2 separate regions of the Homo sapiens genome follow, and region 2 is linked to region 1. The links come from fine-mapping of genetic effects on gene expression. A gene starts in region 1. The other region holds a variant in brackets. All regions are shown on one strand. Distances are between the middles of the regions. Region 1 holds the start of MYO1E (myosin IE). Region 2 overlaps MYO1E (myosin IE).

The links. PIP is the estimated chance that this variant, and not a neighbour inherited with it, causes the effect.
Region 2: its variant is fine-mapped to the expression of MYO1E in lung (TOPMed, PIP above 0.99). The same link has a PIP of 0.9 or more in whole blood.

The regions. Positions count from the first base shown.
Region 1 is chr15:59,371,673-59,374,579 of GRCh38, reverse strand. MYO1E (myosin IE) reads left to right here and starts at 1,709. Exons shown (of 28, transcript NM_004998.4): 1 at 1,709-2,082. The coding sequence starts at 2,080. RefSeq lists enhancers at 1,421-1,925, 1,926-2,429 and a silencer at 2,445-2,764.
Region 2 is chr15:59,135,663-59,138,569 of GRCh38, reverse strand. MYO1E (myosin IE) reads left to right here. Exons shown (of 28, transcript NM_004998.4): 27 at 203-372; 28 at 1,114-2,907. The coding sequence ends at 1,190. Among named protein-coding and RNA genes, the nearest start is that of CCNB2, 32 kb to the right of the region's middle. RefSeq lists an enhancer at 66-360. The variant C/T (reference allele first, on the strand shown) is at 1,609.

The DNA of each region.
Region 1 (2,907 bases):
TTTCAACTTTTAAAAGTGAGATATAATGAACGTACCATAAGACTCACCCATTTAAAAAGCATAACACAGTGGTTTTTAGTATATTCATAAACTTGTACAATCATCACCACTAATTCCAGAATATTTTCATCACTTCAATAGGAAAATGCATACCTGTTAGCAATTACTTCCATCTCCCCTCTCCCCCAGCCCCTAGCAAACCACTAACCTACTTTTTATCTCTATAGATTTCCCTATCCTCAACTTTCATTTAAATGGAATTATATAATATGTGGTCTTTTGCTCCTGGCTTAACACGATATTTTCGAGATTCATCCATGTTGTAACATTTTGTTTACCCTTTTAGACAAGATAAAGTTTAATACCCTTTCTAACTCTATGCTCAGATAGTCAAGTGAAGAGCTACAACCAAATTTCTTTTTCCTTTCTTCCTTTCTTCTCTCTCTCTCTCTTTCTTTCTTTCCTTCTTTTTTTTTTTGACAGAATCTTGCTCTGTCGCCCAGGCTGGAGTAGAGTGGAACGATCCCGGCTCCCTGCGACCTCCGCCTCCCCTGTTTAAACGATTCTCGTGCCTCAGCCTCCCGAGTAGCTGAGATTACAGGCATGTATAACCATGCCGGGCTAATTTTTGTATTTTTAGTAGAGAAGGGGTTTCACCGTGTTGGTGGCCAGGCTGGTCTCAAACTCCTGACCTCACGTGATCCACCAACCTCAGCCTCCCAAAGTGCTGGGATTGTAGGCGTGAGCCACAGCGCCCTGCCTCAACCAAATTTCAGAAAGTATCATAATATCATTATGCTTCATAGTTTCTCTATGCCCTGAAGTTTACCAATTTTATCTTCTACAGATTCCAGGAAGGCAGCCTGTTAAGACTCACCAAATTTACTTCCTCAGCCTCCAGAACAATAAAATCAAACTCCCTACCTTGATTTTAAGATTCTGCTTCCCCCCACCCCGCCCCACCCCAATCTTCTCCTTGGATATTCGACAGTCTGGAATAATGCATTTTTACAGTTCTGATTGTTTTCAGCAGATGTGTTGGCTGAGGTTGGATGGGGTTTCTTCCCACCTATCTCTCCTCTCTCCTTCCCTCTGCCCACTGCACGTGCAACAACTTTTCTGCCATCAAAACGTGCAAAAAAGAAACAAGAAAGAAAGGAAAGAGAAAGAAAAGAAAAACAGAAAAAAGAAAAGAAAAAGCAGCCGGAAGTCTTCCTTTGTTTTCCAAGGAAATTCAGGTAAAAGGAGGGGTGGGGAAATGATATTTTTGACTTTGCTCACAATCCAGACGTAGGAAAGAAAAAGGATTTCCTTTGGGCTGCTGCCACGACTCTGATGTTTTATGCTGATAAAATATTTCCTTCTTAAAAAAAAGTTCTGGGAAAATCATGCCCCTTCAACTTGGAAGCGAAACCCACCCTAACTTTCGTCTTAAAACGCAGCGAAGTGAAAGGTTTGCTCCTCTTTCACGAGGGTTTTGTTCCTTACAGTTCGGGTCTTGCTACCAGGAGCGAGCTGGGTCCGCAGCGTTCTTCGGTGGCTGGCGCGGGAGGAGGACTACAGGATCCAGAGATCTTTGGAAACTCCAGCAGCTCCAAGCTTGTTGGCTACTACGGTTTCCCTGAGGAGTGACGCTACGAAAACAAACCCTGATTGGTCAGGCCTGAGCTGAGTTCTCCATTTATGGACAGATTGCCCGGCCCGAGCCGAGACTCAGCCAGAGGAGTACGGATTAAGTGGCCGAAGAAAGAGGAGTGAGGCAGGGGAGCGAGGCGGACGCTCCGAGCGCATCGGACTCACCTGGGCCGGCGGCGACCGGCGAGTACGAGTGGACTCTTGCCCTCCGCAGCATGCGCCCCGCCTGCTAAGTCGCCGCCGTCTCGCCCTCACCTAGCACCGCCAATCCCGCCTGGATGGAGTCCCCTCTGGGTTCCCATTGGCTCCTGTGAGTGCTTGGGTGTCGGGAGCCTGTTTTTGGCGAGGGGAACCAACTTTTGAAGTTCGCCCAGAAGACTGCGTTCCAGCCCCAGTTCCCCGGCAGCGGGACCCGGCGAAGACGCGACCGCGGCGCGAGTCACCATGGTGAGTTGGCCGCGCCGCGTCCTAGGACGCCGGACCCGGGGACGGGGCAGGAAACCCCGGCGTGGTGCACCCACCTTGGGCGCGCTGCCGGGGCCAGGGGTGGAGAAGGTGGACGCGGGAGCCGGCACGTCGCGAGCTCTGATTTCCTGCCGCTTTCCGTAAACCCGGGCCGGGGGAGAGCGAGCGAGGGGCCAAGGAAAACTTTATTCCAAGTCGGTTTCTGCGTCGCGAAACTTTCTGTGGCCGGGTTGCTATGGCTGCCAGCTGTCGGAAGCCAGGGTGTGGGCGCATCGGCTGCGAGGGGCACGGCGCGGGAGGGGGTCCCCTCCTCCTGCTGGGACGTGGGGGGCGCAGCCGGCAGGGGAGGTGCTCGGAGACTCGCGCCGCAGCCGCTGGCGGCGTCCCCTGCCCTCCCCGCGGCCGTGCCCGCCCCGCCCCGGGCACCCTCGCGCCGACTCCCTCTCCTCCCCGCCGCCGCTCCGCTGCCCGGCAGCGCCCGCAGCTGTCCCGCCTGGCAGCGGCACGCGGGCGGGGGCGGTCCCTGGCCCGCCTTGGCGAGGGGCGGCGCGGGCCGCACAAAGGCAGGCGGGGGCGCCAGGTAGGGCGAGCACCTGGCGGCCGGCGGGCTGTCAAGAGCCAGGGAGACTCGGGCGCGGGCGGCAACCACGCCGCCCCGGACCTGTGCCGGGCGCCGGCCCCGAGGGTCTCCGCGCCCCGGACGCCAAGTAAACACCTCCTGAAGAGGACCCCACCCCTTCCCAAGCGCGAGGGGATCGGGGCTTTTCGGGGATCCAGGGGACGCTTCGCACGGGAAGACGCCCTCGC
Region 2 (2,907 bases), 240 kb after region 1:
TATGTGCATTTGCAACAACCTTGTCAGAAAAGTTACTTTTATTCCTCAAGTTTAAAGACTGCACCCTGGGCCACATGTCTTCTAAGGATGGAGCTGGATTTGAACTTGAACAGGCCAGTGCCGGCCGCCATGCTCCAAACCACCGTTCGGTGCTGCTGCCCCCTGTTGGGGCCCAGTCTCATCTGCTCCACTCTCTCCACAGGGTCAGGAGACAAACAACCAGTCGGCCTCCCCCAGCAGGGGGCAGACCCAAGCCCCAGCCCAAGCCCAAGCCTCAGGTGCCACAGTGCAAGGCTTTGTATGCCTATGACGCTCAGGACACAGACGAACTCAGCTTTAATGCCAATGACATTATTGATATTATCAAAGAAGGTAAGTGTGTGGCTGGTTGGCTGGGACAGCCTCCCAAAGAGCATGCAGTCACATTGCTGTAAGATCTAGTGTGAAAATGAAAAGAATTTATGGGCTCCTCAAACTGCAATTTGTAGAGGCAGGTCAGGCCTCAGGCTCAGTCTGATCAAGACACCAGCTTTTTTAATGCTTCTTTCAGCTCTGCCCCCTTATTTATATTCCCTCCCTTGTCAAGCTGTTTTTCTTCATGGTAGCAAAACGGCAGCAGCAATTCCAGGCCAACATATCAAACCATGTCTGAAATGTGCATCATCTCTGAAACTTCTGTTCTTAGTCATTGGACAAAAGTCCTGACTTTTATTCTGATCAGACCAAATTAGCCATGTGTCCATCCCTGAACCAACTTCAGTAGCAAGACAAAGGCTGTACCCTGAGAGGATGAGACCTGGTAGGGGCTGTCCCCAGAAACGGGGAGGTCTGTCCCACCCACACTTCCTGGCTTCTTCATAATGAAAGTGGATGGAGTGGAAGCCAGGAAGACAACCTTGAATATCCATTATTAAAGCAGTCCATGGGCTTGGCTGAGTGCTTTATTAATTTGGTAGATATCTTACTTTTTTCAACAAACTTTTTGATTTAAAGAACAAAGGGAAAACAACATGGATGGAGCCAAATCACTTGAGCCCATGGGAGCGGAGTGTGTGTGGCTGGGGCAGAACAGACTTTCTCATCTTCACTTCCACCACCTCTCTCTCCCTGCAGATCCTTCTGGCTGGTGGACGGGTCGACTACGAGGCAAGCAGGGCCTGTTCCCCAACAACTATGTGACCAAGATCTGAGGTGCCCGTGACTCTGACACATGGGGCAGAGGAGCTCCAGGCACAGACCAGGGGAGGGGATATTTAGGGGCTCCCCTTACAATCCACAATGAGCAATTGCTTCTCCAAGGCCTGGAGCTATTCTGGTACCTTCCCCATGGAGGACACTGAAAAGGCTGGGTTGGGGACAGGGAGTATCACTCCATAAGTGATCCTAAAAGGTAGCCTCTTCATAGGAACCCAGGAGGACAAAACCACCATGCATTAAGATTTATTTATTGTATTTAAACCTGGTGAGAGGACAAGTGAGGTCTGCTCAGACCTTGTAGGCTTCTATCAAAACAGCACCCTGCTTGCTCACCAGGCCTAGAGAATGGCTGTAGGTGGCCGCTGACAAGTGCCTTTAGTTGAAGAGCACATTTCTTTCATCTCTCTTGTC[C/T]ATACCTGATAGACACATTCCTCTCTGCCACCTTCCTTCAGGGAGGACCCGCCCTCTGCAGACTGGGCTTAGCGTGAGCAGGCACTTCCCATGTACGTGCCAAGGGTAAGCTGGCCTGCTGAGCCCAGGGCGACAGAGGGGCACTGGTTTACACTTTGCCGGGACCATCAGGGCCGCCAAGCAGGTCAGGGGCTGGGGGCTGGGGGCTGGGCTGCTGGCTTTGCTTTCTCTGGGTCTTCAATTAGAATGTGGCTGGCCCATATTGGTTTGTGTTTAAATGCTGTACTTACTACAAGAAGGATCTTTTTTCAAGCTGTACATTTATAAAAACAGATCATATACTGTATATATAAAAATCTTGAGATGGTAGAAACATGTATGAATGTACTAAGTAGTATTCCACTGTACTCATTCATAAGGTAGGTTTTCTTACAAAACTCACACCAGGTACTTAAAGATGTGCTCTGCTTTTTTCCAACTACGGAGTGTCACTGCTTTCTAGGTCAGTCCCTGCAGACTCTTCTCAACTCTTTCCCTATAGGAAACTTACTCCGCGTCCTGCCCCCACCTCCTAAATAAATAAAGGAATCGGCGAACACCTTCTTCTTTTATGACATTTGTTATGGGTTGAATTGTGTGCCTCCAAAGAAGATGTTGGAGTCCCAGCCACCAGTACCTCACAATATGACCTTATTTGGAAATAGAGTCTTTATGGAGCAAACAAACAAAACTAATTAAAATGAAGTCATTAGAGTGGGTCTTAATCCAATATAATGGTGTCCTGATGAAAAGGGGAAATTTGGACACAGAGACCAACATGCCAGAGGAAAGACCATGTGAAAAGGCAGGGAGAAGACAGCCATTCACAAGCCCTGGACAGAGGCCTGGAACAGATTCTCCCTCACACCCTCACAAGGAACCAGCCCTGCCCACCTTGGTCTTGGACTTCCAACCTCCAGAACTGTGAGGCAATACATTTCGCTGTTTAAGCCACTCGGTTTGTGGTAGTTTGTTACGGCAGCCCTAACAAACTAAAACAATGTTTTCTTGCCATAATAGTGAAAAGCTGGAATCAGTGTAATGCCCATCAATAATGGAATGGTTGTAAGTAGAGACTGCCATTTCTCTACCTTTCCTCCTCTGGGTGCCATAGCCATTCTTAAGCTACTGGTAACTTAGAGTTTGAGCAGCATACACCTTTGAGGCTTTCAGGATCCTCAAGTCCATGGGAAAAAATTATCAGGGCTTACGTATAAGGGAAAAAAATTGATCTAGATTTGAAACGAAGATACATTTAAT